Homo sapiens: one gene and its partner. The protein of the gene in region 2 purifies or fractionates together with the protein of the main gene of each other region. This does not show direct contact. Each region holds a gene or a part of one and is shown on either strand. Other genes may lie near its edges.

The links.
Region 1: the proteins of GRAMD2A (region 2) and TUBA8 purify together in Homo sapiens (affinity purification with mass spectrometry; one large-scale study listed by BioGRID and IntAct). This does not show direct contact.

Annotation. Positions count from the first base shown.
Region 1 is NC_000022.11:18,113,629-18,117,439, reverse strand, and holds part of TUBA8 (tubulin alpha-8 chain), read right to left. Parts: intron 1-3,811.
Region 2 is NC_000015.10:72,159,705-72,163,515, forward strand, and holds the end of GRAMD2A (GRAM domain-containing protein 2A), read right to left. Parts: intron 3,773-3,811; coding exon 3,562-3,772; intron 2,674-3,561; coding exon 2,569-2,673; intron 2,309-2,568; coding exon 2,305-2,308; 3' UTR 102-2,304; downstream 1-101. UniProt on the Homo sapiens protein: Participates in the organization of endoplasmic reticulum-plasma membrane contact sites (EPCS) with pleiotropic functions including STIM1 recruitment and calcium homeostasis.

The DNA of each region.
Region 1 (3,811 bases), on a different chromosome or scaffold from region 2:
AAAGGAACTAAGGCACCACCAAGCACCACCACACGCATCATGGGGACTCTGACTGAATTCTTGTTTGAACAAATCAAAATATTTGGGGGACAAATAAACTGATTTGCTTTGTTCAGCGTATTCATAAAAATGTGGTTAAGTATGAAAACATCCTTATTTTTTAGAGTTGCATCCGAAGCATTTAGAGGTAAAATGTCATGACGTCTGTACTTTAAAATCCTTCCCAAACACAGCAAATAACAGATGGAAAAATCATTCTTCTTCTTAAATCTAGATAATAGGTATATGGGTGGCATATCACTCTACTTTTCTGAAGGCTTAAAATTTTTCATAGTAAAAAGCAAAAATCATAATAAAGAAGACAGAGAAAGAATAGGAGCACGGACTGCCCTCTCCAGAACCCCCTTATCCTGGGCCATTGCACGCAGTCACTTACTCAAATAATAATTGACTACGCGCCTACATTGCTAGGGCTTTGAAGTTCCATGAAGAAATCACAAGTGAAATTCAAAGCTGCACGAGGCTTCATGGCACTGTGAGGTCCGTGCCCAGCCCCAGCACTCTGCAGGCCTCTTGCACCTGCTCCTAGCAGGGAGGAGGAGCAGCCCACAGCTCCCGCATCGAGCTCCCGGCTCAGGCACTGAGCTCGACTCCTGCAGCCATGCTGCCCCATTACCCTCCCCAGCCTTCGGCCTGGAAGTTCCACAGAGCAGACCCAGTGCTGAAGCCCGTGGGACGCATCCTCACGTCTAAGAAAAGGCATCCTTCTATCATAACCAGGGATGTTATATCGGCTCCGAACATTTAGGATACCAGAGCTGGGCCAGTCAAGGGCATCCTTCTATCATAACCAGGGATGTTGTATTGGCTACAAACATTTACGATACCAGAGCTGGGCCAGCCTCATGGATCACCTAATATGATTCCCTCTCCATTATTTTACAGATGAAACTGCTGAGCTCAGAGAGGAAAAGGGACAAATTCAGTATGTCACAGCACTGCAGCAGCAAAAGAGCCTGGACCAGAATCCAGGGCTGCTGACCCGGGCCTGACTTCTTTCTTTTAGGCCACATGGCCTCCTGCCTCACTTGCAGCTCTGAACTCCCAGGGCCCTGGGGTGTGCCCACATCTGCGCCAATGCAAGACCAAGTTCGGATAGCAGAACTCCAAACAGGAAATGTCTCTTGTGCAGAGCGAAATGGCGAATGGCTCATGGGGCGGCCTCTTTGAAAATGGGTCATCTTTCTCTGACAGAACCAGAAGTCCGCTTCTCAGGGCCCACGTGTGCAGCTGGGGTTGGGGGCAAGGGGAAGCTGACCCAGCAGAGGATATTTAAGTCATGTGCCCGCTCCAAACTCATATTTCAGATTCCTCTGTCTAGCCAATCAGAGCACATGCCTGTCACTCACACTGCTCCTGTCTCTCTCAGTTCTATTTTCAATCTGGGCTTGTAGAGCTCAGACAAGTTCTGTCCTCCTTGGTCCCTGTGAGGGGAGGGGGTCCCTTGTTTGCTGCAGAAGCCTGTCCCACCCAACTTCTTCTGGGGGGTGAAGAGGAGGGAGGTGGAGGGACCAAGGAGGTCCCTTCCTCATGAAAAGCATGCCACTTCTCACACAGACCTCACGCTGGGATAGCTACAAAAGGCACCTACTCATTTCTACAGCAAATCTTTTTGTGTGGTTGCATTCGAGACAGCATTGTGAGGTTACTGGGCTAACTCTCATTCATCCTTCAGGTATCCAGTTAATTGTCACTTCCTAAGGAAAGTCTGCAAAACCCCAAGCCAGCATAGGGCCCTGCCATGTGCTCCCCCATCCCCTTCATTCCTGTCATTGTAATCATCACACCGTATTATAGCTGCCTGTTCATTTTCGCACCTTTCTAGTAGAGAACGTAAGCTCTGTGAGGGCAAGGAACCTTTGTTTCACTCAAGGAATCCCCAGTACCGAGCCCGGTGCTTGAATGTAGCAGGTGCTCAATTAACACAGGGAGGACTGGAATGAAAACCTTCCCTGAGGGGCTGCAGTCCATCCAACAAGGACAGCGGCCAGGGCCTAAGAAGTGTACGGGTCAAGTGCAGAGGGAGTTCCAAGGAGAAGGAGACATCTTCTAGCTTGGTTTCCTAAAGGAGGAATATTCGCAGGGACCCTGAAGAAGGCAGCCGGCCAAGATGATCTGGGGCAGTTCAGGTGGATGCAGGAGCAGTGTGAACAAGAGGCAGTAAAACGCAGGGTGGTTCCCGCACACTGCCCAGTCTGTCCGGAGCGCAGGCTGAGGAAGGGCAGGGCCAATGAGACATCTGGGCCACCTGTGAACACTCCGCCTGGGGAGCCACTGCCCTGTGAGCCAAGGCCCCTCGCTGGGAGGCATGAGCCCAGTGCCTGTGTTTTGCAGAGCATCAATAAAAGAAATTCTAGAACTTTGCAGCCCTTTTATAATTTTGCTGCAAGAAGCCCTTTTTTTTTTACATCATTCTTATATTCTATTTTAATAGTAGTCATTTCCTTTTGCTTTGTTCTCAGAGGACTAAGATAAGCTAATCACCATCCTTGGCAAAAGGAGACTTTGAAGCCTTAAAAAGGCTGTCTTGTGATACTATTTCCAAGTATCACAAGACAGTAAAAGTGGCATATCATCTGGGAGAGGGGCCGACGTGGACCACAGTGTGTGCCCTGTGAAAGCCTGGCACCACCCACACTCCCTGACCACCTGTGCTCTCATGCCCCAGTTGCTGTCAGGAAGCATGTGATTACACCGAATTATCTCTAGTTGTCAGGCTGGGATAAAATAGATCACATATATCTTAGGACCTAGGTCAGGGATGGCAAGTGAAAAGCAGGCCCACAGTGTCACAGAGGGGTAATTAAAGTAAGGACAGATGTGGCTCCTGAAGGGCTGCTGAATTCTCTCTGCTCAGAACTCTTCGATCATAGGGCATATTTGAGATCACTCATAACAAAGAATAGATAGCAAGCCAGACACAGCAAAAACAAAGTCGGCCTAAATTCACTTTAGCGAGTGAAGGTGGCTCGCGAGAGGGGCTCAGATGATAGGCACTGCAGTTAGGGCAGCAACAGAGCTCACAGGAGGCCAGCTCTGGCCATGAGGCCATCTGCTAAGGAGACTTCCAGCATAAGAGGCCGGAGGGCGTTGAAGGCCTGGGCTGTGGCTGGCACTGGGGCAGGTGCAAGAGACACTTAGGAGTTTCAATCCGATGCACACAGTGCCTGCTCCATCTCCTGCTCTCTTCTGCAGCTTATTATCTGAGAGAACTCCTAACAGGAAGACACTGCAGGGGAAATGCCAACCACAAAGGCCACAGATAGTGCTGTCCGTCCCTTGCGGCTTGAGGGAAAAGGAGCATTTGGTCTGCTTCCTCCCCCCGACAGTGCCACATCCTCCTGCCCACCCCCATCACTGGCCCGCTATCCACCAGCTATTTCCCCCACCAAAATTATTTTTAACTTTCATCTCCCTTTGAAGGTCACTAGGAGAAAGCACATTCAACAGTGGCATTAACCCCCACCCCAAGCTCTGTATGGGCCTGACCCAAGGCTGGGGGCTCCCAATGGACTCACCAATCCAGCAGCTCTGCCCCAGCCGCTGCCCTGTGAGCCAAGGCCCCTCACTCGGAGGCATGCGCCCAGTGCTTCTCGGGAAACCTGCCTTTTGTGATGGGAGGGGAGGAGGAGGCAGCAGTGACCTGCAGCCCCTGGGAGCCCACACAGTGCTCTGAGGTCAGAATACACCTATCAACTCCACAGAGCTTGGCCATGCCTGTCTACATGGGGAGACTGCAGAAGGCTGCAGG
Region 2 (3,811 bases):
GGAATGACTTGGGCTCCATCAGTCTCCTGGGGGCTGAGTATGTCAGTAAGAGTACCTGTAGTGAGTAGTCAGAGGATAAAAATGAACTTTCTATACCATAATACACTAGAAAAATCAAGTTTTTTATTTTAAAATATTTTCAAAGGCTAAGGCCATAGCAAAACAACCCAAGGGTGGTTGAATCAAACTCAGGGAATTAGAGGAGCATCAGCCAATGCAAGCAGGTCTATATAAAATACACATCATTTATAAATGCACACAGCAGAAAGCACAGTGGCCCCAGAGGACCAGGCAGGGGGACAACAGAGAGAAACAGAGCACTATCTGGAGGGACAGGCACACCCGCAACACTCAAAGCCCTGGGCCCCAAGTGCACCTCCAAAGTCACCTACGCTGCAGCATGGCTCTTGCCCTTTCTGAGCCTGGGTATAGCTGAAGACCAAGTTCACCAGCATCTTGGCACATCCACCTATAACTGGCACCTCTCATGGCCTCTGACAACCAAGCAAGGCTCAGAGAATGGATTTTTATCTCTGTCTTTCAGCAAGGACCAGGGAGAAGTGCTGAAGCAAGAAGGGTTATTTTCCTAAAAAAAAAAGACGGATGAAAGGGTGAAAGGGGCTGGTTCCAAAAAAAAAAAAAAAAAAAGGATGACCATTCATGGAACAGTGAGTTTCACCTGAGACATACAGATTTGGTGCAAGCAACACAAAAGGCCAGGCTCTAAATTTCATCCTAAAAACTGGGATGGGGAGAGCATGAAGAGACCACTTACTGGTAGTCCCTCCAATTCTCATTTGGGTTTGTCATAAACAGGACAGACAGTCGTCTGCTTCACAATAAATAATTTCCACCTGGATTTCATTCCCTGATTAATCTCTCAGTGTCTGAAGAGGGGAAAACAGTGGCTGCTTCTGACACCGCCCACCCCATCACCAGCAACTTTCCCTGATACTTCTGGCCTCCTCACTAAGCCCTTCCAGAACCTCCAAAGCCACTATCTTAGCAGATGGGAGTCCCAGGGCGATGAGGCCAGAGTTGTGGGACACAGAGAAGAAGAGAAGGCCTTGATAGAGGAAGAGGAATATCCAAGGCAAAGCCACCACCACGTCCAACCTCCTCATCCTCTACCTTTCCTGTCCCCAGAGGTATGAGATAGACCCCCTGGCCTGGTTCCTGCACTGTGCTAGGCCCACAGTGGACACTTCCACCTTAATGGAGAATAGGCCCCATGGAGTGGAGGTCCCTCCTCCATGGCCTGCAACCCAATGACTATGGGGGTGACACAAGTGACCTCTGCCCTGTGATGGCTCAACACCATCACACGCAACTGTCCAGACAAGCCCCCCTCAACGGGCTGCTGTTGGCCATGCCTGAGATGCGGGCAGGCAGGCAGGGAGTGGACAGCAAGACCTCAGATCCAAGCCTCCACCCTTCCCTTCCCTATTTCCAGGGCTTGGGACACCTTAGAAATGTTTGAGCACACAAGGGCAAAACCCAGTACCAGGTCTGTGACCACAGTGATCAAAGGCCCTGCTCCACTTGTCTCACCGGAAAGTGACAGCTGAGGACACAGAATTCAGGTACCTCTGTTCTTCACAGCCACTGCCACCATCTCCGCCGTGGGCAGCATCTCCCCATAATGCAGCCAGCCACCTCATGAGGGGCCGGCACAGAGCCCTGGCCCAGAGCATGGAAATTCATCTCTGGCTGGAATCCTGGCCATGAGCCCTCCCCTCTGCATTCACAGATTCTCAGCAGGCCCCTGCCCAAGCCTGACAGGTGCCTGGCTGCCCGCAGAGAAGCCCTGTGGGAACACAGAGTGTTGGGAGGGAGCAGAGCCCACATGGGTGGTTTGTGTTCTGACCTCTGACCCCACCATAGGAGTGAGCTGTGTGGCAGAGCCACATTCCAAATGCGAAAGCATGGCCTCTGTCCTTTGAGGTGGCCTCCAGTGTTCTGCCTGTGTGCCAGAACTGTTTCCAAGGACCCAGTTTGTTTGTTTGTTTGTTTTCTCTAAGTGTTTGCTGAAGCTTTGTGTACAGAATTCCTCAGTTGGTTCCAAAAAATCTGGCTTTTTGCTTGAGTCCAAAAATTGTAGAAGCCAGTTACTTTGTAAACACGTACTTCAGATCTCTCATAGAGGGAAGAGAAGAGCTGCGGGGAGGAGGAGGGATCTGGAATATTTTCCTTCATAGGCAGTCTTAGCACAGCAGCAGCATAAACCACAGGGATCATTGGTGGAGACTTAGCACCCAGAACATTCTTCTTGGAGAAGGAATGGGGACAAAGGCCAAGTGGCTGTTACCTGCACACAGGAAAGATGTCCACATCAGGGAAAGGGCCCAGAATGCAGACGGACGTGGGCAGAAGGGCCAGTGATAACTTTACTTCCCCCAAGAGTGGGCCAGGGTGGGACTGGTGTACCCTGCACGCTGCCCAACCTTGCTTAGGGTCAGAAGCCAGCTCAAAACAGGACCAAGTCCAGCCAGGCAGCCTGGCCTGAGGTTCTTGGCTCCTGTCCTCAACCCTCAATATCAAAGGCATTAGAAAGAGAAAAGGCCTCACCTGTGCCCAGGGACTGGGTCATCCCAACTCAAGGAGCATAACTGCTGCTCTAGCCGAGAAATACGGAACGCCAGGTAGGATGAGGACATGACCAGGAAGCAGATCCTGAAGAAAGCGGCAATACGGAGTTAAATATTTCTTCCACAGAAAGAGCATTTCTGGAAGTTCACCGGAAATAGTGGGGACCAAGCTACCCCTGCAGTTGGAAGAATTAAAGAGCCCTTTGTCCTGCAGCCAGTTCAGGCCTCAGCATCTTTCTTCCCAGACACCATGTAGGGGTCTTCAGACTTGTCCCCATGGAAGTGTCCTTACAGCCCAGCTAGAGCTCTGGGCCCTTCAGCTGAGCTCTGGGGGGAGCTCTGGCCAGACAGCCAGATCAGTCATCCTACCCTCTCTCTCACCAGCCATGGTGGTCCTTCCTGTGCCTCCTCTGGGAGGTCATGATGATGACCCCCTAGGCGGTGGGCCCATTCCCCCAGCAGGTGCTGATGTTGATGGTCAAAACCCGGCCAGCCGAGCCAGAGGAGGCTGATGAGCTAAGGTGAGGGAAAGCAGGGGCTGGCTGTTCATGTCACTTCCCACGATGCTCCCTGCTCTACTGGTCCTTAGACAGAGGTAGAGACAAGTCAGGGGTTCCAGAAGCTGCCCTAGTGGTGGGCAGTGGCGAGGCCAAGCTTTTCCTCTCTCTCTCCAATTTTCCTGGCCCTCCTTCTCCCAAATCCTTTTCCTCTTCTCAACATCTCCATATCCTGCCCCTCTCCACCAAATAGTCTTAACCCTAAATTACAGGGTTTCAAGAATAAAAACTGGAGATCCTTTCTCTTGCTACAGAAGGGCGTGCCACATGGCCTTCAGATACCACCCAAGAGCTTGAATTTGACTCAGAAACTTCCCCCTGGTTCTGAATAGTGAATTCCCCACACTCCAAGGCCCTTGTTCCAAGCACCTAGACATGCAGGTGGGTCTGTCCCCCTCCCCAGTATAGTCACTTACAGCACAAAGAAGACCTTGAGGAGCCGGTAATCCCAGAGCCTCAGCTCCCCAGTGCTCCTGGGCTCCTCCTCCAGCTCATCCTCCTCATAGACAGCATTCTTTGCAGTGGGAGAGCAGTTCGGCATCTTCTTAGGGCAGGCAGGACCCCAGCCTGGCATGGGCCATGCCCACCTCCCACCATTTTCTGAAGCTACTTGGGCTCTTGACTTTTCTTTATGGATTGGGAGAAAAAAAAAATCAGCTCTCAGAA